Linked DNA regions of Homo sapiens. The protein of the gene in region 6 purifies or fractionates together with the protein of the main gene of each other region. This does not show direct contact. Each region holds a gene or a part of one and is shown on either strand. Other genes may lie near its edges. The genes, in order: VPS54, ERI1, DGCR8, ERGIC1, ANTXR1, SYN1 and ATG4A.

What was found.
Region 1: the proteins of SYN1 (region 6) and VPS54 purify together in Homo sapiens (affinity purification with mass spectrometry; one large-scale study listed by BioGRID and IntAct). This does not show direct contact.
Region 2: the proteins of SYN1 (region 6) and ERI1 purify together in Homo sapiens (affinity purification with mass spectrometry; one large-scale study listed by BioGRID and IntAct). This does not show direct contact.
Region 3: the proteins of SYN1 (region 6) and DGCR8 purify together in Homo sapiens (affinity purification with mass spectrometry; one large-scale study listed by BioGRID and IntAct). This does not show direct contact.
Region 4: the proteins of SYN1 (region 6) and ERGIC1 purify together in Homo sapiens (affinity purification with mass spectrometry; one large-scale study listed by BioGRID and IntAct). This does not show direct contact.
Region 5: the proteins of SYN1 (region 6) and ANTXR1 purify together in Homo sapiens (affinity purification with mass spectrometry; one large-scale study listed by BioGRID and IntAct). This does not show direct contact.
Region 7: the proteins of SYN1 (region 6) and ATG4A purify together in Homo sapiens (affinity purification with mass spectrometry; one large-scale study listed by BioGRID and IntAct). This does not show direct contact.

What each region holds. Positions count from the first base shown.
Region 1 is NC_000002.12:63,960,429-63,963,928, reverse strand, and holds part of VPS54 (vacuolar protein sorting-associated protein 54), read left to right. Parts: intron 1-1,485; coding exon 1,486-1,871; intron 1,872-3,500. UniProt on the Homo sapiens protein: Acts as a component of the GARP complex that is involved in retrograde transport from early and late endosomes to the trans-Golgi network (TGN).
Region 2 is NC_000008.11:9,009,397-9,012,896, forward strand, and holds part of ERI1 (3'-5' exoribonuclease 1), read left to right. Parts: intron 1-2,145; coding exon 2,146-2,356; intron 2,357-3,500. UniProt on the Homo sapiens protein: RNA exonuclease that binds to the 3'-end of histone mRNAs and degrades them, suggesting that it plays an essential role in histone mRNA decay after replication.
Region 3 is NC_000022.11:20,083,241-20,086,740, forward strand, and holds part of DGCR8 (microprocessor complex subunit DGCR8), read left to right. Parts: exon of another isoform or gene 1-2,032; intron 2,033-2,446; 5' UTR 2,447-2,723; coding exon 2,724-3,443; intron 3,444-3,500.
Region 4 is NC_000005.10:172,928,251-172,931,750, forward strand, and holds part of ERGIC1 (endoplasmic reticulum-Golgi intermediate compartment protein 1), read left to right. Parts: intron 1-3,500. UniProt on the Homo sapiens protein: Possible role in transport between endoplasmic reticulum and Golgi.
Region 5 is NC_000002.12:69,180,679-69,184,178, reverse strand, and holds part of ANTXR1 (anthrax toxin receptor 1 isoform 1 precursor), read right to left. Parts: intron 2,394-3,500; coding exon 2,298-2,393; intron 1,687-2,297; coding exon 1,519-1,686; intron 1-1,518. UniProt on the Homo sapiens protein: Plays a role in cell attachment and migration. Interacts with extracellular matrix proteins and with the actin cytoskeleton and thereby plays an important role in normal extracellular matrix (ECM) homeostasis.
Region 6 is NC_000023.11:47,617,058-47,621,080, reverse strand, and holds the start of SYN1 (synapsin-1), read left to right. Parts: upstream 1-1,223; 5' UTR 1,224-1,352; coding exon 1,353-1,729; intron 1,730-4,023. UniProt on the Homo sapiens protein: Neuronal phosphoprotein that coats synaptic vesicles, and binds to the cytoskeleton. Acts as a regulator of synaptic vesicles trafficking, involved in the control of neurotransmitter release at the pre-synaptic terminal.
Region 7 is NC_000023.11:108,098,278-108,101,777, forward strand, and holds part of ATG4A (cysteine protease ATG4A), read left to right. Parts: intron 1-3,500. UniProt on the Homo sapiens protein: Cysteine protease that plays a key role in autophagy by mediating both proteolytic activation and delipidation of ATG8 family proteins.

The DNA.
Region 1 (3,500 bases), on a different chromosome or scaffold from region 6:
TTTACTTTCTAGCAAAATTCTTTATTTTATTATGGCCCTGTTAAACAGTCCACAGATTGGCAGCAGCATATAAATCACATTCTGGGTAGCACTGTCCTAAAGTTATCTATTCTCCATTTACTATTCTGGGAATTGAGTCCATGTTACCTTGCAATTTACCCTAGTATATTTGTGCCCATTTTGCTTTTTTAGTGAATAAATGAACAGCCATATTGAAGATGAAAGAGCAAAAGGGCATAAACTCAAGATTTAAACTGTGGAAAAATTTCTTGTTTGTAACCTATTTAGATATTGTAAGATTATTGAAGGAGCATTATTGAAGATATGAATGATACTCTGTGTTTCCTTAGGGAAACAGATTTGATGACCAAATAGTCTCTTCTAATCTTATGAGACCTAAATGTTGAAAGTTCATTAACCCTTTGAAACTATGAATTATCCCAAGACATTCAGAGATAATGCCCGAAGTCTGAGCTGTGGGTTAAAAAATCTCAAAGTAAAAAAATGGGTGAATAATGGAAAGATAATATAGCCAAAAAAGGCATATGCAGTTAGAAAGGAAGAAAAGGCAAAACAAGTTTTAGAAGTCCATATTTGAAATTTAGAAAGCATTTTAAATATATATTACCATAAGAATTAATCTTGGTAATGCTACTAAAAAAATATATATGAGCTAATTGTTTAAGGTATTTGTCGAACTTTTAAGAGGAAAATTCATTGGAAATAAACTGAATTTTACAAATTGATAAAAGAATCACTTTTGAAATGTAAAATAAGCAGCCTGAAAAAAATCCAAATGAATTTTAGTACCTTATCTATAATTTGTGACTGAACCATCAGTCTATCTTGGATTATTCAGCATTTTGAGGCAGAATGGTATAATAGAAACAGCTTCAGTTTTTCAGTCAGAGATATACCAACATTTTAGTTTTGCTACTTAGTAACTACATGACTGTGTTTCCTCATCTGTAAAATGATAATAATACTACCTATATTTCAAGATTGTTAAAATTAGAAAAATTAGATGTGTATAAAATACCTGTGCCTAATCCATAGGAGGAGGTCAATAAATGGAAGGTGTAATCATCTATTTAGTCAGATAAATGATGTGCAATGATATTGGGGGCTAAGGAGATCATTCTCTTTCTCTCAGATCTTAGAACATCTGAAACTGGAATTGTAATTTGAGATGTCTGTGGGGTACTCTTTTAGAAAGCAGTTGGTGTTTGGAAGGTGATAATGACAGGAACAGAGGAGGAAAGTAAATGACCTTGTACTCTTTTGTCTTACATTTATATCTTTGGGGTGTACCCTTTATCTTCCTTCCATTTTGTTGTGCCCAATTTCAAGGATCTCACAATCAAACAATTCACACAATGGAATTTAAAGTATATGTAGAAATCTTTTATCATTGTCATAAAGTATTTGGATAATCAAGGAAGGTATGCTCATAGTACTTCATATTTTTTTTCCTTCTCTTTTAAGCTGAGCCATTATCTGGATATTGTGGAAGTAAACATTGCTCACCAGATCTCTCTACGTTCAGAAGCATTTTTTCATGCAATGACCTCTCAACACGAGTTGCAGGACTACCTCAGGAAAACTTCCCAGGCTGTAAAAATGCTTCGAGATAAAATTGCACAGATTGATAAAGTAATGTGTGAAGGATCACTCCACATTTTAAGACTGGCACTTACCAGAAATAATTGTGTTAAAGTATACAATAAGCTGAAGTTAATGGCCACTGTACACCAGACTCAGCCTACAGTACAGGTGTTATTATCTACTTCTGAATTTGTTGGAGCATTGGACTTAATAGCAACAACACAAGAGGTTCTACAGCAGGAACTTCAGGGCATTCACAGTTTCCGGTATGTTCATTAAGTAAGCCACTAGAAATAATGTTAGAAATTTTTAAAGGATAAAATTGAGCATGTAATGTTAAAAGTGTGAATATATTCAAAGTTAAATGGATATTTTTTCTTCCAGATTGATCATTTGTTTAATAATGTTATTCTGATATTGTAGTATTAGCAAAACAAAAACCATAAGGAATAATATTTTCAGAGACATTTGGATGGAGAAGCAAAATTAAAATTTCTAGGAGATGAGATAAATGCAAGGCCAGTCACAACATTAACATTTTGAAAGTGTTGAAATAGCTTTGTGTCACAATGGTAGGTCAAGGTGGAGAGAATACCAGCATATTTAAAATTAAGTTTGTGTTGAAAGCCTTTAATAGATTTAAAATTGAATAATTATTAAAATTCATTTCTGATTTGCAGTCTGTTTATCAAATTGCAAAAGAAATCCACATGGTGATAGAAAAGACCCAATTTCTCCTGTTATTATTTTGAAAATACCTTAGGTTTTAAATATTTTATATGAAATCATTCCAAAGTGTTTATTTTATAGACTAATTGCAAGCCATCAAAATTTCGTTCCATTAAGCAGGCTTGCAGTATCCTTGTAGAAGTTCATATCTGCTGGGAAAACCATCCAAACCACGTACTAGTAAGTGACTATAAAGTTTTATGGAAGATGTGCTCTGTAACTTAATCCATTATGGAAAAGTTAGCTTCAAAATACATTTATTTTAATTGAATTATAAATCTTATTGACTGAAGATATGTAATTGGAATGTTTAGGATATATTTTTAAAGCTGAAACCAAATTTAATTAGATGAACAATTGATTGATTCATTCAGTTAAGGTATGGCTGTTGAGCACCTATTACATGTCAAGTACCAGACAGAATGAATACTGGGAATATAGTCATGAATGAAGTAGAGATGTTCAGTGCTCTAAAAGTCTCTACAATTTATTTGGCATGGGGAAGGAAGCAGACAAATTACTGCATAGTTATGATATAGTGTAATATAGTATGATGAATGGAAAGATTGCTGTGGAGCTCTGACCTTAGGGGTGGAACCTAATCCAGACTTGGATGGTTAAGAAAACGTTCTGAGTCACAAACTTCTTTGAGAATCCATTGAAAGGTACTGTTGGACCATCTTTCCACAAAAATATACCTGTACATAAAATTTTGCAATCAATTTTGGGTGATTCATGTTTTTTTGAAGTCTACTTTGAATTCCCCAGCATGGAACCCAGGGCAACTAAATTATTTTTAATTTTTCCTTCACCTTTGAAATTATAAGGATTTATCTTTGAATTTGTATGTCGTATGTATTTTTTCAATAAATGTCAATTTTGTCATTGCCTTAGAGAAATGGATTTCTATAATGACAGAAGCTGTGTTTTTAACTTATCACTTACTGTATAATATCATGAGTGTTGATGAATATTGGGAGCCAGTATCCCATAGATAGTACAGAGCTGAGAAATAGAATCAAAGATTGAATGCCGCCTTGGCAAACACAAATTCTCAAATTGTTCTAATTTTTACCTCAAAGTTCATGCAGTTTACTTTTACTTTCCTTGACTCATAAGTTTATGGTCAATACTCATGAAAAGTAATTTTAAGAAGAGGGTTGGAT
Region 2 (3,500 bases), on a different chromosome or scaffold from region 6:
GGAGGGGGAGGGTATTTCAGGCAAAAAAATAACAGAAACTTTTCTAATTCCAGTTTGTATGGTTTCTGCAACATGATCTTGCCTTTTCTTCACCTGTTGTGCAACCAAAGTTATAGGACATAAAAGTGTATTGAGAACATGCCTTTTATTTTTTATTTTTTTGAGACAGAGTCTTGCTCTGTCGCCAGGCTGGAGTGCAGTGGTGTGATCTCGGCTCACTGCAACCTCCGACTCCTGGATTCAAGCGATTCTCGTGCCTCAGCCTCCTGAGTAGCTCGGATTACAGGCATGCACCACCATGCCTGGCTAATTTTTGTATTTTTAGTGAAGATAGGGTTTCTCCATGTTGCCCAGGCTGGTCTCGAGCTCCAGCTCAAGTGATTCACCCCCCTCCCAAAGTGCTGAGATTATAGACGTGAGCCATCTGGCTGGTTGAGGCCATGGCTTATAGTATATTTTGTCTGCAGTACACAGTATACCTCAGGAACATGTGACAATGATAGTGAAATGATAGGTTGTAGCCAAGTTGTGAAGGAACTCTATGCTGAAGTCTGCATTTTACCTCGTAAGCAGAAGGGAGCCACTGAAGATATTTAAGCAGAAAATTGGTGTTAGTGCTCAGTTCTCAAGTAAAGTAAAGAATGAATCGAAGTGTTGTGGTAATGGAGGCATTTGCCATGCTCAACGAAGCTAATGAGAGCCATAGCAGAAAGAATTAGAGAGAATCATATTCTGAATATGTTTCTGAGTTAGAATTGACAAACATGGTGAATATTTGGAAGAGCAAAGGAGATGTTAAAGATAGCAGGTTTCTATCCAGAGCAACTAGTTGTATGTTTGTCCTGCCATTAGCTTTGCAGACAACTCTGGTAAATGTAGTCTCTCCCCCTATCACACCTCCCACCCCACAACAATAACAACCAATAAAAAGATAAAAAAAGAAAGTAATCCAAAGCTGTCACATGACACAGAGGTCACTCACAGTGCCTTAATATGAAAGAGGTTAAGGATTTTCTCCGTAGGTCTTGATAATTTTGAAAATCTCAAGCAAAGAAACAATATTAAGACATTTCATCTTAAAAAAGCTAACTGGTTGATTATTACTATTTTCATGGGTAGGATTTTTTTCAGTGCTTAATTGTATTTTAGAAAGGAAAATAAAAGACTAAAAAGGTTTTTTTTAAATAGTCATTAATCAGTTAACATGATACTTTACTTGGCACTACACATTAATTATAATTTAGATCTTTTTATTTTTACTTCCATTTCATATTTGCAGGCCAATATAGGATTCATTTATATAACGCTGAAGGAAGCCTGAATGCTGGTTGCAACTTAATTTTTTGGAAAAATACATATTGTTTAAAGAATGAAGTCACCTGATCACTGTTATCTGTTAGGATGACCTTTCTCTCCTCCCCACTACTCCATTTGTGGAATGTATATTTTAAAGCTACCTATAATATTGAAATCCCCTAAATCATATTCTACCCATGATAAATTAAGAAACTTATTTCTAGTTAAGAACCTACTAGTGTGATAATGCTCCTTTGGACAGTTTACTTAGAGTGTATTCTAATTGAGTTTTCCTTGTTAAGTAGCCAACAGACATTCACCTTTATATGCTAGGCTCATAATGCTTTCATATTCATATGAATCTTTTGAGTTGACTAACCTACAAAAGCCAAAAGAAAGGAAAGAGATAATACGATATTTTCAACTTAACCCAAATTTTTATATTCTTAAGTTTATATTTTGGCCAGTGGAATAATTTTATATTAATTTCAATGTTTGTATCATATATGTTATCTTAGTATATAAGGCAGTATGACGACTGTGTTGGTAGTATATGCTGACAGTGTTTATGGTTTGAAGTACCAGTATATGTTGGAGAAAATACTGTTATATACTACTAAAATAAAAAAAGACTTGTGAAGGAAAATGTTAATGTTGTAATAAACATATTATTTTAATTAGTTCTTTGCTAACTTAGCTTTGAGTCTTGCTTTTCTTACATTTATTTTAGCTAGCATTTGCTAAATTTCGCTGTGATTGTCAGTGTTCAGCCCAGTGCCAGCAGGTGAGAGTTTTGATTCTTGACTGTAGAATTTACCTAAGTGTAACTAGTCTTCTTCTTCTACTTAGAGGAGTAAAGGATGTTCTAAAGAAGAGACTGAAAAACTATTATAAGAAGCAGAAGCTGATGCTGAAAGAGAGCAATTTTGCTGACAGTTATTATGACTACATTTGTATTATTGACTTTGAAGCCACTTGTGAAGAAGGAAACCCACCTGAGTTTGTACATGAAATAATTGAATTTCCGGTTGTTTTACTGAATACGCATACTTTAGAAATAGTAAGTGAATTTTTGTATTTTAATTGTATTTCTAGCAGCAACTATTCTGGTGTTTACTGGTTATGTGGAGGACCTCATTTGCTTTTTAGCCAGAATTAGACTTCTAAAGTAAGTTTTTTCTTTGCCATGAACTTTATATCAGCTTGATTAATAGAAAAGCTGTAACAAAGCAATTTTAGAGACTACTGCTTTCTTTTTGCAGTAGCGGAAGTTAAAATGTTGTTTTCCATTTGCTTAGAACATCTGGGTGTGGACATCAGAATCTCCTGGTAAGTAAAAAAATAAAGAAAACACTAATGATACTGATGCCTGGCCCTAGTCCCAGAGATTCTAATTTAGTTCTCTGATAGGGCCTCTGACATCAGCATTTTTTTGAAGCTTTTCAGTTGGTTTTAATATGCGGTCAGGCTTGATAACCACCACTGTGGCCTAGTGTGAACTCTGATCTCTAAGAATGATAATTTACAAAAATGACTTTTGAACCTCTCTCTCTGGTGGAAAGTTTAAGGGTGAAATGACTCATATAACCCTGGTTTCTAAGCCAAATAATATGTGTGCTTTAGATACTTGTCAGTGCTTTATTAGTTAAGAAAGTCTAGTAGGAATTCCCTAAAATAATACTGTTTACCTTATAAAATCTGAGCAAGAATATCCTAACATCTCAACTTTCCAAAAGTCACTTCTGTGATATCCTCAGTTGCTACCAACCCACTTGGGAGTAAGTATAAAAAGGTTTTGTGAATTAAAATGCATAGGTTATTAGTGCTATTCAAAATCTCTTTTAGTTATAGTCTTAGCCTATTTCTATAATTTTCTTATCCAAAGCAGATTGAAGGTCAGTAAATTAGAAGGAAAAATGGCAGCTATGAAGGCAAATAATCTTGCATAAGTCACTAGATTTTACTTCTCTCTTACTCAAGGACGTTACTGTAGCAGTTCTCCCTCATTTGGACATTATGATTTATTGCTTTTGTCTATATTGCTCCCACTACACAAAAACATGTTATATTTTTCACACTGTGTAAAAACTTCATCCCACTTCACTGCCAGCTACTGCATTTCTTTGTTCCTCTTTTTGGGAAAATTCTTCACTTAAGTTATAGGTACTTATATGTTTATCTCTTTCCTTTTCTTCCATTCTCTC
Region 3 (3,500 bases), on a different chromosome or scaffold from region 6:
TGAATACTTCTTGGCATGTGACAGGGTGCATGCTTTTCTTAGTTGTTAGCGGTCCATCTCCCCCACTAAAATGTGAGCTCTGTAGGGCAGGGTTTTGTCCACCTTGTGTCTGTAGCATCTAGGATGGTGTGTGTGTGTGTGATGAATGGAGAAAGCTTATAGAGGGGAGGAAGGAACTTGCCCAGGACTGCCCACCACTGAGGTCTGGGGCTGGGCAGGTTTCCTGCTTTCCTAAGGAGCTCACTCACTTGTAAGGCACCAGGCTTTCCTGCTGTGCATTTCTTCAGTGCCGCCGCTTGGCCCCATTAGCACCTTTGCTTGGAACGTCTACTCTAGCTGCTTCTTCGCCTTCTGTGGTAGCAGGCTTCCCCATTCCGTCCCACTGTTGGTCTCTAATCCCCTGCTCCTTGTGGCTTCTTCATGTAGCTTTTTGTGTCCCAGAATCATGGATTGACTCACCAGGGTCTCTATGGGACTGCCAGGTTCTGAGGTGTGTGGCCCTGGTCTTCCTTGTAATCTGTGGCACTGGGCGCATTGACCCCTCGGTCTGTTTTCTCTAATGGTCTTTCTTGGTTGCCAGGAGACTGACCTCACCCCACTTAGTGTTCCTCATGCCTGCCTGGTTGCTGCCCACAGCCTCTTGAGCGTCTTCAGCACTTTATAGTCAGTTGTTAGCTCTGTGCTGTGTTTCCTGGATCCTCAGCACCTTTGATGGACACATCTTTGGGAACATACGGTGTGAAATTCCCATTAGATTCAGAAATGTTAGGACATCTTAGAATCCAGGAAATGGGGTGACAGTGCAGTGGTCATTGACCTGCCAGTGTGTCCAGGCCCTGTGACCTTGTCTCTTGTCCATATAGTGCGTTCCTCGGAGTAGATGGCCAGTGGATAGTTGTTAAATGTATTGATTAAACCTAAACTAGTCTCTGGTTTTCATGTTGTGTCCCCTTCGAAGTACATCCACCATGCCTTGTCCCTTGTTAAATGTGTGATGTCTGCATCTCCTGTTCTTTCCGGGAATCTTGGGAGGATGTTAGGTCATGCAGTGCGGTTTGCATGTGTGCATCTTTACTGGTATGCACGCATGTGCATGCATGCGTGTTCCTGTGCACGTTGTGGGAGTGTGCATGTGCGTGTGTCTGCATGTGTTCCTTCTGCTCTGATGCAGGGTTTTCTGGCTGCCCCCTCAGACCCATCTTCCCTGCTTCATGTTGTCCCTTTCTTCATGCTTCCTCTGTAGTAAGGCTTCCTAGAGTTGCATCCTTAACCCTCATCTCTGGGTGGCCTTCCTCCTGTGGGTTTGGCGACTACCTCCTCAGTGCGTCCTGGCCTTCCGTATCTGGACCAGTCATGGCTCCAGAGTTGTGGCCTCGGCACCTTCAGAGCCTGCCTGGAGGTCCCCTCTGTTCTCCTCGCCAGGCTCCTGCCTGCATGCTGGAATTTGGGTGTCCTTCCTTGTCTTTAGTTCCCTCTTTTCTCTGCTATCCACCTCCGTTGGGTCAACAAGTGCGGTCAGTTCTGTGACACTGTTCTTGGCCCATTGCCAGGGCCTCTTTCACACCTTTGTCCTCTGGCCTGGAGGACTGTCCCCGTGCCTTGGATGCAGTTGCTTCTGCCTGGCACAGCTGTGGGTCTCCCCTCTCAAGTAGGAACCTACTTGTGGCATGAGAGTCGCTTCACCTTCAGTGGCTCCTTATTGTCCCCAGGGCGGAACGGGCTGCAGGTGGCACCCAGGCCTCTCTGTGCCTCGGCTCCAGCTGTCTCTTGTGGCTCCCCACCCCAAATCCTGGCAGGTCCCTTCCCCACAGCCACCCACCCCTCTCCTCCATCGGGAACAGAACTATGCTGCCACCTCTGGTGACCTCAGCACGCTGCATCACTGTCCCCGTCCACGTGCTACCCTGTGGGCCCAGGAGAGCCCTGGGGTCCCTGGGTAGCAGAGCGCCTGGCCATGCCTCTGAGGCCCCTAGTGCCGCAGAGTTGAGCTGAGGGTCTCGCGCTCGCCCTCTGACTGACCCAGCCCTTGCAGGTGAGTGGATTGCTGTGCTCTGGTGGCCTGAGGGAGGCCACGCGCCTTCTGTGTGTTCCAGAAAGGGTGCCTCCCACTGCATGCTTGCTTATCTGAGTTAGAAGAATGCTGTGGTGGAGTTTAGTGTAAATTTTTAAAATATTTTTTGAGCCTTATGATTATATAGTTTTTGTGTTTCTGAAGTAGGAATTAAAGTGGGCATTAACAAAATATTTAACTTTGGACTTAAGTTATAATTCAGGTTCTGAAGAATAAAAGTAAGGTTAGTTTGTTTTGATGCCTAAAAAGTCCTCTTAGGGAATATTATTTTGAAGCCCTTTACTATGCTGTTAATAGTGCTTGGCTTTTAACTTGGTACCAGGGAATTGGAAGGTTTCTGTCATTTTGTGACGATATTTTTAAATTTCTTTGCAGGTAGAAGAAGAAAGGTGCCACTCCGGCATGAAGACAGACTCGCTTAGTCGCCAGTCACTTAAGCTGAGTGCATTGTGATTTCCAATAATTGAGGCAGTGGTTCTAAAAGCTGTCTACATTAATGAAAAGAGCAATGTGGCCAGCTTGACTAAGCCGCCAGCGCACAGCGCGGCAGGACGCGCCCGGGTCTCAGCGGACTTGTGCATGTTAGCTGTGTAGATTTATGTGAGGGCTTGTAAAACTCTGGTCTTGTAAACTAGTCTTAAGCGCTTTTAATATGGAGACAGATGAGAGCCCCTCTCCGCTCCCGTGTGGGCCCGCAGGAGAAGCGGTGATGGAGAGCCGAGCTCGCCCCTTCCAAGCGCTGCCCCGTGAGCAGTCTCCACCACCTCCCCTGCAAACGTCCAGTGGTGCAGAGGTAATGGACGTTGGCTCTGGTGGTGATGGACAGTCCGAACTCCCTGCTGAGGACCCCTTCAACTTCTACGGAGCTTCTCTTCTCTCCAAAGGATCCTTCTCTAAGGGCCGCCTCCTCATAGACCCGAACTGTAGTGGCCACAGCCCGCGCACCGCCCGGCACGCACCTGCGGTCCGGAAGTTCTCCCCTGACCTTAAGTTGCTTAAGGATGTAAAGATTAGCGTGAGCTTTACCGAGAGCTGCAGGAGTAAGGACAGGAAGGTGCTGTACACAGGAGCAGAGCGCGACGTGCGGGCGGAGTGCGGTCTGCTCCTTAGCCCTGTCAGTGGGGACGTGCATGCTTGTCCCTTTGGCGGGAGTGTTGGTGACGGGGTAGGCATAGGGGGTGAGAGTGCTGATAAGAAGGATGAGGAGAATGAGCTGGATCAGGAAAAGAGAGTGGAGTATGCAGTGCTCGATGAGTTAGAAGATTTTACTGACAATTTGGAGCTAGATGAAGAAGGAGCAGGCGGGTTCACGGCTAAAGCAATCGTTCAGAGAGACAGAGTGGATGAAGAGGCCTTGAATTTCCCCTACGAGGTATGTTGGCAGCCCCTCCTCTAGAGGGCTCTTAGCAAAACCCAAAGAGAGATTTGG
Region 4 (3,500 bases), on a different chromosome or scaffold from region 6:
GTGGCGAAAGCTATCTCAGGCTGGCTCAAGTGGAGAGAAAAAAGCATGAGATCAAGCAATGGACAGCTGGGGAAGGGCTGGCTTTTATTTCCTCAGCTCCCAAGCTCAGTCCCTGGCACTGGGCCGTTGCCTTTGTAGGTCCCTCTGTGCCCAGGTCTTGCTATGGGGGTTGTTTCTTGGCATTAAGGTCTCAGTTCAAACGCCACCGTCTCCAAGAAGCCCTCACTGGTCACCCTATCTAAAGTAACCCTCACTCCTAAGGACAAACCTGTTTTTTCTTCCTAGCATAGACCACTCTCTGAAATCACCTTGTTCTCCCAGTCATCTGCTGCCCTTGGCTGTTGCGCCAGCTATAACATGGCACTCTGCCTTGCCCACTGCTTTGTCCCCAGGACCCAGCCCTGTACCCAGGGTATAGTAGGTATATGATCGATGATAAGAGGCCTGGAGGCCACTATGGAAGAGCTCCTGCCAGATGGTGGTGGAGTGCGGTCATGAGGACCTCGGCCTCCAGTGTCCCCCTCCACTCTTTCCCAGCCCTGTGGTCTTGGGAAAGTCATTTAACTCTGCTAAGCCTCAGTTTCTGCATGTGTAAAGTGGGAAGAATCCTCTCCACCTTAAGCCTTGCTATGAGGATTAATGAGATGCGTGTACAGAGTTTAGTACACGGCCTGCCACATTGTGAGTGCTCAATAAATGTTGGCCGTTCTCTTCATTATCGTCAGCAGCTAACTTCAGGAACGAGATCCCCTAGGGCAGAATCTAAGGAGAAACTTTCCTATATCAAATTGTATCTTGTATTGTGGTACTGAATTGTTTAACTGGTCCTGAATGATATAACTGGAATGAAACCAGCTTGTCATGTATATGTATACACATAATATGGGCTGTCATATATATATATGTGTGTGTGTGTGTGTGTATATAAGTATACACACACATACATATATATGGGCTGCTGGTTTTAAGAATGCAGATTCTGGGCCCCACTCCAGTGGCGGGATAGGGATGAAACAAGATTGGCCATACGCTGGTAATTGCTGAAGTTGGGAAATGGGTACGTGGGAGTCCATTATACAATTCCCTATGTTTTAGGTTTGAATTTTTCTGTAAGAAGATTTTGCGGGTAGGGGAGGAGGAGTGAGCTTGAAGGGAATGTGGGCTGGCCTAGACCAGGTTGGAGCCAGCAGTCTCTAGGAATGGTCAGCTCACAAGGAATCCACATGGGTGTAATTAACTGCAGTGTCTCCAGTGGGCATTTGGCAAATTGTATCAAAGGCCTTAAAAATGGTCATTGCCTTTGAGTCATCAATTGTACTCATAGGAGAGTAAGCTAAGGAAATAATTAAGAGAGTGTACAAAAATCTAGGAAAATAATGTTCATTAGGTCATTGTTTATAAAATTGAAAATGAGGAACCACGTCAGTGTCCAGCCATAGGGGGTTGACTGAGCATGGTAACTGCCCAAGATGAGCGAGGTGTGTCAGGACCTTACTGGCAGTCAGGCAGCAAAGATTTATTGAGCACCTACTATATGCTGGGCATTGGGCTAGGTTCTGGGGATAGAGAGATGAATAAAACAAACTCTGCAGAGCTTATGTTCTGTGTCTTAGACCTGAAAAGTTGATCATGATGTTCAGTTCTTAGAAAAAGATGGCTGGGCGCGGTGGCTAACGCCTGTAATCCCAGCACTTTGGGAGGCCAAGTCGGGTGGATCACGAGGTCAGGAGTTCAAGACCAGCCTGGCCAAGATGGTGAAACCCCCATCTCTACTAAAAATACAAAAAATTAGCCAGGCGTGGTGGCAGGCGCCTGTAGTCCCAGCTACTCAGGAGGCTGAGGAAGGAGAATCACTTGAACCCAGAGGGTGGAGGTTGCAGTGAGCCGAGATCGTGCCACTGCACTCCAGCCTGGGTGACAGAGTGAAACTCCGTTTCAAAAAAAAAAAAAAAGATACGGTATGGTCCTATTTTAGGAAAATACAAATATATGTATAAACATGTCTGGCAGTTTATATGTGAGACTGTGAACCATAGTTTTCTGAGGATGGTGAATTTATGGTGATTTTTTGTTTTGTCCTTGGTGATCACCTGTGTTTTGTACAATTTTTTTTTTTTTGAGATGGAGTCTCGCTCTGTTGCCCAGGCTGGAGTGCAGTGGCAGCTCACTGCAACCTCCACCTCCCGGGTTCAAGCGATTCTCCTGCCTCAGCCTCCCTAGTAGCCGGGACTACAGGTGTGTGCCACCAGGCTTGGCTAATTTTTGTATTTTTAGTAGAGATGGGGTTTCACCATGTTGGCCAGGTTGGTCTTGAACTCCTCACCTCAAGTGATCCTCCCACCTCGGCCTCCCTAAGTGCTGGGATTACAGGCGTGAGCCACCACATCCGGCCTTGTACAAATTTTAACAAGAAATATTACAGGGGTGATTTTGATAAGGCATTCACTTTTTCATTCCTTCAAGTTTTTAACCTAGGGCAATGGGCGTTTGGACACCACTATCAAGCGTGGTCTTGGGCTCTTGTTTTAAAAATGCAAATTCTGAGCTCCACCCTTGACCCATTTGGCGGGATGCTCCTGGAAAGAGGTCCAGGTGTCTTTTTATTCCAAATGATTCGACTGCTTCTGACATCTGAGAACCATTACAGGGTTGAACAGAGGGATGTTGGAGTCTTCATGGACTGGGCTCTGCGGCTGCAGGACTTTTCTCGGGTTTTCAGAGGAACCTACTCAAAACAATTCAAGAAGCACTTCCTTTGCTTACTGAGATATGGCTTTGGCAGGAAGGGGCAGGGAGGGAGTGTCAGGGCAGTGAATGCTGTCTGCATTCCCAGCCTTCTTACAGAAGAGGACTGACTCGACTCTGCGACCAGGCTTAGAACCCACAGGCCTAAATTTCTGTGTTATTTTAGCTCTGTAGTCCGTGACCCGAGATTGTGGAAGGCCCATGAGCTTCCTGTAAGCATCCCAGAAGGCCCAGGAGAGTTCATACCTTTCCTGAGTGATATTTGGCAGCTCTGGGCCAGCATTCTATCAGCCCAGCATTGGATTCCAGTTACCTCACGCTTATCAGCAGCTGATTCATCTGTGCTTTCATTCATGCCCCTGTCCAATCATCCTTCCATCCGTTCATTCATTCAGTAAGCATTTGCCACGGTCCACTTGGTACCAGGCCCTGCACGGGGCTCTGGGGACACAGAGTTGAGTAAGGCTCCATCCCTGCCTTCAGCAGCTCCCCCATCCAGGAAGAACTGATCTGCCGTTGATTTCTTTCCCCATTCTCAGTTCATCAGTGCTTCATTGGTGCAGTTTTTCTGGTTGATAGGCTCTTTTCTTTTTAATACTGAAACCTAGTTTGTTTTAAAAGTAAAACTATTCAGACAATGTCAGAGGATGTACAATGAAATGGGATCTTTCTCAAATCCTGCCTTCCTCCCCAGAAGCTAAAGCTGCCCGTGGTTCCTTGGGCATCTTTCCAGATAATTCTCCTATATATTTACA
Region 5 (3,500 bases), on a different chromosome or scaffold from region 6:
TTTTGATTTGTTGGAGAAGCCCTGATCCAAAATTAGCAAATTAACTCAGCGAATGATGAAAATAATCTTTGTTGCTATTGGAAGGGGGGTAAGGCTGTGTGTGTGTGTGTGTGTGAGTGTGTGTATGTGTATGGATGGTGATGGGAGCTGGCTCTATTGAGTCTTTGACTTGAGGCTTTGGAGTTGGTTCGGTTCTGTTTGCAGCTTGAAACTGGAGTCTGTAGCCCTGAGTTGGGGGCCTTGTTTTCCAGACCTCAGCAGAACAAGGACTTTGCCTATCTCAGTATGAAATCAGAGAGTGGGGACAGATTATGTCTAGAGTCTTTTCAGCTATAATTTTCCAGTGCTCTCTGACAAGTGGCATAGTGCAGATGTTTATGGGCATGGCTAAAGATTGAAGGTGTTAACTGAATCATGTGAATTCAAAGCCATTTGGACCAAGAAGAATAGAAAAGAGGCCTTCAGGCTGGGCATGGTGGCCCATGCCTGTAATCTTAGCACTTTGGGAGGCCGAGGTGGGCAGACTGCTTTATCAGGAGTGCAAGACAGGCCTGGGCAACATAGTGAAATCCGTCCCTCAAAAAAAAAAAAAAAAAAAAAAAAACAAAAATTAGCTGGGTGTGGTGGTGCGTGCCCGTAGTCCCAGCTACTTGGGGGTTGAGGTGGGAGGATGGCTTGAGCCTGGGAGGTCGAGGTTGCAGTGAGCAGAGATCACACAACTGCACTCCAGCCTGGGTGACAGAGTGAGAACCTGTCTCAAAAAATAAATAAATAGAAAATAAAAAAGAGGCCTTTAGGAAACATTAACTGCCTCCAACGGTTTACACTTCCCAATAAACCAAAGAGGATTTTAAGATCTGGAGGTGTGGGGGAAAGACAGATGGTGGAGAAAAAAGATTTGCTTACAACCAGAAAGAGTGAGTCCTAGATCCATGACCAGTGAGATTTGCTGGTGGGCCCTGATACACTGGCAGGAGGCGCAAATAAAAGGGAATGGGCTTATATTATGGCAAAAGGAGTAGAGATTAGCATTAAGGAGAAGGCTGCCATTTTTCTTAGATAGTAGATTGTCTGCTAAGTGAAGTTATGAGATGCTATGGAAATTTATAGTCACTCTCTGGGGTTACTACCCAAGTTACTTGACTCACAGTCCATGCTTTTTCCAGTACCTTGCCATGGTGATTTTTTTTTTTTTTTTAATATGGAACACTTCACGAATTTGCATGTCATCCTTGCCCAGGGGTCATGCTAATCTTCTCTATATTGTTCCAGTTTTACTATATGTGCTGCAGAAGTGAGCACCACGGTGATTTTTAAAAAGCCTAGTTTTCAACCCAGATTATGTGGAAATTGACAAAGTAATTACTAGTACTTTCAAGTCCATAATTTTAGATAATTGTTCCCCTGTGATAAGCTGGGTTTTAGGTTGGGATTTTATCATGTGGAAAGATTTTGATTCTTCACTATGTAAGTGTTTTATCAGGACTGATGATAGATTTTTTGAGTAAAGAGACACACCTTGATTGGAGAGTACCACTTCCGGGGGGAAGAAGGCCGACGCATATTGTTGTTGAGATTTCGCGGCTCAGGGAATTCATATTCCTGCTCCGGCATCTTGACTCTTGCATTCTTTGCCTTTTCCAACTTAGCACCTTCTTCTGTGGAGCCCTTTTCTCCCCAACGAACCTAAAATAAACAAAATACAATGAAATGAAATGACAAAATATGCTGCCCCTCGAGAATGAGAATGACAAATACATGCATGAGTTGCAATGTGAATGCTACCCAACCCTGGATTCCTTTGGGTTTTGAGGGCCAGGGAAGAGGGAAACTGTGGAAAAAGAGAAAAGGGGAGGACCAAAGGAGCAGAGAGCTGAGCCACATGGGTGGATATTTAGGGAGGAATTGTCCAGGCAGCGGGGACAGCACATGCAAAGACCTTGCAGGTTCAGGTACGAACTTTGGATTTTATTCCAGTGAGAAAAGAAATCACGAGGACGTTTGAGCTGATGTGTGACCTGCTCTGACTCACGGTGGGCAAGACATGGAAACGCACAGTGAAAGGCTGTCCCTCCTATCTCTCCATCCGTCTGCCTTACAATCCATATCCCCACCAGACCTCAAGGAGGTTTTCAGCAATTTGCTTTGGGTTTCTGACATTGAGTCATCAGTGTGGTCTACGGCCATACTGCCCTGGGCATGCCTGATATCTAGAGGCTAAGCAGGGTCAGGCCCGGCTGGTACCTCGATGGGAGTAGTCAGCACATAGATAAGTGTATATGAAGCTGTCCTCTTACCTCCATTCTTTTAATGCCTCCAACGCCTCTCCCACCATAATAAGAGGCGTCTACCGTTGGCCACTTTTTCTTAGGCAGACCATCATCATCTTCTTCCTGCAGAGAAATTGTGGCACATGAAGGAAGCAAAACAGCACTGCTGTGTGGACCTGCCTACTACAGCCAAGTGATTAGGAGTAGAGCTTATAGAGTCAGACTGCCTGGGTGCAATCCCAGTGCTACTGTTTCCTAGAACCTTGGGCCAATCACTGAAACCACCTAAGCTTGTTTTCCTTATCTGTAGAGTGGGAATGTAAGCAGTGCTACCTGGTAAGTTTGTGGTACAGTCCTGTTCTCTTGTTCTCTTCTACAGCTCTACTCCTTTGTGGGAATCGCATCTAACCCCACCTACATGCTAATGACTTGTGACTTTACATCTTCAGCCCTGATGCTTCTGAACTCCAACTGCTCACTTGACATTCACATTATTTGGGGGCTAAAAAACATCTCAACAACACCACAGCAGAGATGTCCTGATTTCCCTACCCTAAACATGCTCCTCCTGTAGTCTTCCCCACTGCCTCTCTCTTCTTTACTGCCTCTCCCCAACTTGTCCCAACTTGCCAGCTAGTTCTGTTGCTACTACTTAAAGATCTAAAATCTGTTGACTTCTCCATCCCCACCACCACTATCCTGGGCCCAAGCCCCCATGCACTTGCTCATGGACACTGTGGTAGCTTCCCAACTGGCCTCCTGCTGCCCTAAGACTCACCTATGATCTGTTCTCCACAAAGCAGCAGAGTAAGTGCAAACGCCAGCTCTGCCCTGTGTGTTCTGGCCTTTGCTCACCTTTCTGGCCTTCTTCCTTATCATGTGCCCCCCTCCTCCTGAGCTCCAGCCTGCCTGCCCTCTCTCAAATACTCTGGGCAAATTCCTGTCTTGGGGCCTGTGCACAGTGTCCCCTTGTCCCCTTGTCTAGGAAAGCACTTCCCCCACCCCATCTTCTGATGGATGGATTTTCATATTACTCCTCAGAGAAACCTCCCCTGGAAATTTCTTCTAAAGTAGCCGCGGTCTCTTCATTCCATCAATCTGTTTTATTTTTAGTTAAGGATCTCATCATGGCTTGATATTTACTTAATATCTGTCTCTCCACACTAGAACGTACGTTCCACAGAGGCTTTTGTTTGTCATGCTTACAATTGTATTCCCAGTCTTTAGAAT
Region 6 (4,023 bases):
TGCTTGGACTACCTCATTTGCTCATATGCAAACATTATTTGGTACCTACTGTGTGTGCACCATGGGATGGGCCTGCCTCTGTGGAAAGTTCTTGGGTGCAGGGGGAGACAGCCATGGGCACTGATGACATCAGGTAGTTATCGTGAGTTTTGGCGGTGTCCAGAGCAAAGGGATGGTGGCGTATATACCAAGTGTGTTCTGGTGTGGGGGTGGACACGCACCAGGGCTAGGGCTGCAGAGAATGTCTGTGTTGCAGATCTAGGTTTCTCCATGATCATCGGTGGGAATGTGTTTTGTCTGCAAGTGTATGCTCATATGAGTTTCCCTGGGTCTCTGTGTGTCAGTGTGTTACCTGTGTGTGTGGGGGTATGGGTGTATGCATGCATGTATGTAACATGCCCATGTGTGTTACTCTGGACTTGTATGTCTGTATGTATACCTAGATTGGCGTGTGTTCTGTCTGTACATGCCCTCGTATGTTTCCTCACTTTTGTGTGTGTTTATATGTGTGTCATTTCTTGTGTGCCTCCAGGCCCCCCTTGCCACCTTGGGCAAGGGTGTGTACACCACCCAAGTGTCCACCTCCGCTTGTCTGATGCTGTCTGTGACGCCCCCGCTCTCTGCCTAGCTGAGCCTGTGTGGATGTGGGAGACTAATCTCCCCGCGGGCACTGCGTGTGACCTCACCCCCCTCTGTGAGGGGGTTATTTCTCTACTTTCGTGTCTCTGAGTGTGCTTCCAGTGCCCCCCTCCCCCCAAAAAATGCCTTCTGAGTTGAATATCAACACTACAAACCGAGTATCTGCAGAGGGCCCTGCGTATGAGTGCAAGTGGGTTTTAGGACCAGGATGAGGCGGGGTGGGGGTGCCTACCTGACGACCGACCCCGACCCACTGGACAAGCACCCAACCCCCATTCCCCAAATTGCGCATCCCCTATCAGAGAGGGGGAGGGGAAACAGGATGCGGCGAGGCGCGTGCGCACTGCCAGCTTCAGCACCGCGGACAGTGCCTTCGCCCCCGCCTGGCGGCGCGCGCCACCGCCGCCTCAGCACTGAAGGCGCGCTGACGTCACTCGCCGGTCCCCCGCAAACTCCCCTTCCCGGCCACCTTGGTCGCGTCCGCGCCGCCGCCGGCCCAGCCGGACCGCACCACGCGAGGCGCGAGATAGGGGGGCACGGGCGCGACCATCTGCGCTGCGGCGCCGGCGACTCAGCGCTGCCTCAGTCTGCGGTGGGCAGCGGAGGAGTCGTGTCGTGCCTGAGAGCGCAGCTGTGCTCCTGGGCACCGCGCAGTCCGCCCCCGCGGCTCCTGGCCAGACCACCCCTAGGACCCCCTGCCCCAAGTCGCAGCCATGAACTACCTGCGGCGCCGCCTGTCGGACAGCAACTTTATGGCCAATCTGCCAAATGGGTACATGACAGACCTGCAGCGTCCGCAGCCGCCCCCACCGCCGCCCGGTGCCCACAGCCCCGGAGCCACGCCCGGTCCCGGGACCGCCACTGCCGAGAGGTCCTCCGGGGTCGCCCCAGCGGCCTCTCCGGCCGCCCCTAGCCCCGGGTCCTCGGGGGGCGGTGGCTTCTTCTCGTCGCTGTCCAACGCGGTCAAGCAGACCACGGCGGCGGCAGCTGCCACCTTCAGCGAGCAGGTGGGCGGCGGCTCTGGGGGCGCAGGCCGCGGGGGAGCCGCCTCCAGGGTGCTGCTGGTCATCGACGAGCCGCACACCGACTGGTAAGCCACTGCCGCGGACGTCTCCCGTGGGCCTGGGTCCCCAGATCGTTCTTCTGCGAATGAGCAATTATCGAGCGCCGCTTGTGTGCCTGACACCTGGCCCTCTCACCTAAATCTTTTTCCTTTAAATTATTAAGCTGGATGCTTCCTCTGTGCCCCGCCCTTGTCGCCCCCCTCCGCCCCTTAAACCTTGATGGATCCAGGGAGCAATTATCAGGCACCTGCTGCGTACCTGTTCCCTACTACCCCTCCCCCAAAAGTCTTTGGCTTCAATATATCCTATGAGCCTTCGAAAACCGAACGTGTCCTTCCTACCCTCCCCAACCCTTGCCCCATAGGCCTTGTCCTCTAATGGATCTTGTGAGCACTTATCTAGTACCTGCAGTATGCCTCATCCAAGAGCCCTTCCCCAAGGCCTTTGATTTCAATGAGGTTTGTGAGCATTCTTTGAGAGCCTGATACTGTCCTGTTCTCCTCAACCCTTGCCCTGAGGCCTTCTCTAATGGGTCTTGTGAGCATGTGTCCAGTCTATGCTATGTGTCCCACCCCAGCTCCGTCCTTAAAGCCCTTTTAAACTATTTAGTAAACATTGAGTACCTGCTGTGTATCCCACCCCAGCTTCTCTCCAAAAGCTTTGCCTTTCATGGATCCTGTGAGTTTTGATTGGATGCCTTCTCTGTGCCCCAACTCCAAGCCCTCTCTCTGAGGGCCTTTTCTCCAAAGGATCTAGGAAGCATTTGTTAAGTGCCTGATACGTGCCGCACCCCCAAACCCCTTCTCAAACAAATCATTTTCCTCCAGTGAGTTCCATGAGCAGTTTTGAACCTTCTTTGTGTGACTCATCTTCAGACCGTCTCCTCAAAGACCTTTCCCTACAGTGGATCTAGAAAACATTTATTGAGTGCCTCTTGTATCCCCCGTTCTCCAGCTACTTCTTCAAAGACCTTTCCTTTGGTGGATCCATCTAGCATTTATCAACTGCCTGCAGTGTGAGCCTTCTCTAAAAGTTCTTTCCTCCAGTGTATTCAGCAAGCATGCATTGACTGGTGCCTGCTGTATACCCCACCCTCAAACCCTTTCTGCAATACCCTTTCCTCCAGTGGCTTCAGTCTGCATGTATTGAGCACTTTCTGCATGACCCAACCTTAGACCTCTCCATAAAGGCCTGTGCCTCCAGTTAATACAGTGCTCAGATATCTGGCACTTGCTGTGTGTACCATTCCAGTCACTCTTTCCAAAGACCTTTTCTTTTAATCACTCCTTGGAGTATTTATGGAGCACCTGCTGTGTACCTGATTGTGTGCCTTCTTCACAAAAGCCTTTTCTCCTATGGATGAAGAATCGAGCTCCCATAGATCAACTTTCTGCACTCCCATTTCCCCTCCCCATAGGACTTTTCCTTCAGGGATGCAGTGAGCCTTGATCAGGTGACTATATGTCCATCCCCAGCCCCACTCCCCAAAGGCCTTTTCTTCTAATGGATCCAGTGAGCATTTATTCCTTGTCTGTCATGTGCTCCATTTTAATCATCCTCCCCCAAAGACCTTTTCTTCCAATGGCTCCCCTGAGCATTTATGGAGTGTCTTCTGTGTGTTCTGTATATTCACACCTCCTCCCCAGAATTGTTTTCTTAACAGTAGATCCAGTGAGCACATATGCAGGACCTGTTGTTTTGGGGAGTACATTCTTCTTCCTTACCCCTAGGAGAGCCTGTTCCAATCACAAGGCCTCTCCCAAGGTCCTTTCCTGTGATAAATCCAGAGCTGAGTTTATAATGATCACCCCTTTCCCACTCCCTTCAGTACCCCTAGGATTCCCTCTACCAACTTTAATTCATACCCCCAAAGGGCTTTTAGTCTATTTAAGTAACACTTACTTAAGTAAACACTTTTACTTAATAGTTTTACTATTGACTTAATTTACTAAATAAATTTAGTAAATTTACTAAATTTACTATTTACTTAATAGTTTTACTATTTAAGTAAACACTTATTGAGCACTTACTGTATAAGTCACTTTCAACTTCCTCTTTCCAAGTCTCTGGAAATCCCTGACCCTGCCTCAAGAGCTCTCTCTCTAGGGGTCTACTTCAGCCTAAATGTATTGAGTACCAGCTGTTTACTGGTTAGATTACCTCTCCCCCAGGAGCCTTTACCGAGTAGCCTTTCTCTCCATTCAGAGCAATTTATTCATTCTGCAGATATTTATTGCATCCTTTCCATGAAAGTGTGGGAGGCATTTATTATGCACCATTATATACTAGGAATAACCCTTCTTCAGCTCCCCTTCCTTCT
Region 7 (3,500 bases), about 60 Mb from region 6:
GCTGTTATAATAAAGCACTTTATATTTACTCCCTGAGTTTTAGCTTCCACACTCTTGTTTTAAGTTGTTTGCTTTATAAGTGGTTTCTTTTTTTAAAAGGGTTTTATTATGAATAAGAGACTCGCAATAATTTGCAAAGATAGTACAGAAAGGCCCCATATAATCTTCATCTGAGTTACTTCAATCATTGCATTTTACATAATTATAATACAATATCAAAACCAGGAAATTGATACTGGAATGATACGTGTGTATAATTCTATGTTATTTTATGATGTGTAGATTTGTTTAACCATTATCGCAATCAAGAAATATTCCATCTCTCCTGTGCTACCTCTTTATAGTCACACCCACCACCTACCCCCACCATTGATAACCCCTGAAAAATACTAATTTGTTCTCCTTTTCTATAACTGTCATTTTAAGAATTTTATATATAATTAAAATGATTTAATTTTTAGAATCATAAAGTATGTGACCTTTTCCACTATTTTTCACTCAGCATAATACATTTGAGACTCATTCAAATTGGTATCAATAGTTCATTCCCTCTTATTGCTGAGAAATATTACACGACATGGAGGTACCACAGTTTTTTTAACCATTCATCTATTAAGGGACATTTTTAAATGTCCAGTTTTTGGCTATTACGAAGAGAACTCTTATTAACATTGAGTACAGTGTTTTGTGTAGATGGAAATTTTCATCTCTCTGAGATAAATGCCCAGGAGAGCAATTACAAGGTGGGACGGTAAATATATGTTTAATTTTAAAAGAATCTGACAAACTAGTTTTCCAAAGTGACTGTACCATTTTGTATTCTCACCAGCAATGGTATGAGAGATCCAGTATCTCCACATCCTTTCCAGCATTTGGTATTCTCACTATTTTTTTTTTAAGTTTTAGCCATTGTGATAAGTGTGTAGTGATATATTACTGATTTAATTTGCATTTATCTGATGGCTAATAAAGTTCAACATCTTTTCATGTGTTTATTTGTCATCCCCATATCTTCTTCATTTAAATATCTCTTTATATCTTTGGCCCATTTTCTAATTGTATTGTATTGTTTGTTTTACTGTTGAGTTTTCAGAGTGCTTTATGTATTCTAGATACCAGTTCTTTGTCAGATATGTAGCTTGCAAATATTCTCTTCCAGTCTGTGGCTTGTCTTTTCATCTTAATAGGATTTTCCACAGAGAAAGAGCTTTTAATTTTGATGACATTCAACTTATTGATTTTTTTCCCTATTATAGATTGTGCTTTTGTTGTTACATCTAAGAAGTCTTCACCAAGTCGTAGGTCTCAAATATTTTCTCCTAGATTTTCTTCTGAAAATGTTATAGTTTTACATTTTACATTCAAGTCCATGATCCATTTTAAGTTAATATTTGGCATAAAATGTGAAGTTTAGGTCAAGGTTAATTTTTTTGGATTATTGATATCTAGTTACTTCAGCTCCATTGAATTGCTTTTGCACTGTTGTAAAATATAAGTATGCCGTACTTGTGTATATCTATTTCTGAGTTTTCTAATCTGATTCATTGATCTACGTATGTGTCCCTCTGCCATACCACACAGTGTTGAATACTGTAGCTCTATAATAAATCTTAAAATTTGATAGAGTGATTCCTCCTAGTTTATTGTTTTCAATATTGCCTGTTCCTTTAACTTTCCCTATAAATTTTAGAATAAACTTGCCTATATCTGAAAAAAGTTAGCTGAGATATTGATAGGAATTGTATTAGACCTGTGTATCAGTTTGGGGAAAACTGACATCTTTACTATGCTGAGTCTTCCAATCCATGAGCACCATATGTCTCTCCCTTTATTTAGATCTTCTTTTATTTATTTTATCAGCACTGTTCAATTTTCAGCATAGAAATCTTGTATGTTTTGTTAGAATTATACATAACCATTTCATTTTTGGAGTGACTATTAATGGTATTTTATTTTGAATTTTGGTTTCCATGTATTCATTGCTAGTATATAGAAATATAAATGATTTTTGTATGATAGTTTTGCATATTGAAACCTTGCTGAATTCACTGATTAGTTCTAGGGGGTTAAAAGGTATTTTTCTAATTTTTTTTCTTTTGTTTTCATTGTTTTTTAGGACTTTCTATGTAGACCATCTTGTCATCTGCAGAGAGGGACAGTGATATTTCTTCCTTTCCACTCTGTGTTTTATGTTGAATAGCAGTGGTGAGAGCTAAATTCTTGTCTTGTTCCCAGTCTTAGGGAAGAAGAGGTCAGTCTTTCAGCATCAACTATAATGTAGTTTTTTTTGAAGTTTAGATCGTTCCCTCTTGATTTCTAGTTGTCTGAGTGTTTTTATCATGAATAACTATTGAATTTTGCCAAATACTTTTTGCATCAATTGATATGATCTTGTGATTTTTCTTCTTCAGTTTGCTAATGCAGTGGATTACACTAATTTATTTTCAAATGTTGAGCTAGCCTTGCATCCTTGGATAAAACACATTTGGATGCGATGTATAATTTATATGTTATATTTGCTCATATTTGCTGGGGATATTTGCTTCTATTCATGAATGATATTGGCTTGCAATTTAATTTTTTGGTACTGTCTTTGTCTGATTTTGGTATCAGTGCAATATTGGCCTTATAATAAGAGTTGGGAAGTAGTCCCTCCTCTTCTATTTTCTAGAAGACATTGTGTAATATGAGTGTTAATTCTTCTTTAAGTATTTGGTAGAATGCTGCAGTGAAATCATTCAGGCCCAGATGGTTTCAATGAAGAATTTTTTTTTTTGAGTTTTAAAATTATATGTTCAATTTTCTTAATAGTTACCAAGCTATTCAAATTATCTAATTTCTATTGAGTTGTGGTGGTTTGTGCTTTTCAAGGAATTTATCCAGCTTATCAAAATTATCAACTTTATACATGCATATTTGTTTGTAGTAATCCCTTTTGGTGTCTGCAAGGTCTATAATAATATCTCCTGTTTCATTCCTGATATTAATGATTTGTGGCCTATCTTTTTTATTTGTCAGTTTTGCTTAAGGTTTGTGAATTTTATGAGGCTTTTCAGAGAACTACCTCTTTGTTTCATTGATGTTGTCTGTTGATTTTGAGTTTTCAATTTCATTGACTTCTGCTCTTTATCTCCTTACTTCTGCTTGCTTTCAGTTTAATTTGCTCTTACTTTTCTAGTTCCTTAGGGTGGGAAATTAGATTATTAATTTCAGACATTTCTTCTTCCCTAAGTTAAGCCTTTAGTGCAATGAATTTCCATCTCAGCACTGCTTTAGCTGCATGTCATGTATTTTTTTTATCACAGTAAAAAACCATAGCAGGAGATTTAGTTCTTAACAAACTTTAAAGTGTACAGTACAATATTGTTAACTATAAGCACAATGTTGTACAGCAGATCTCTAGAAATTTTTCATCTTGAATGACTGAAACTCTATGCTTATTGAGCAGCAACTCCCCATTTCCCACCCCCCACCAACCCCCTGGCAACTACTATTTTCCT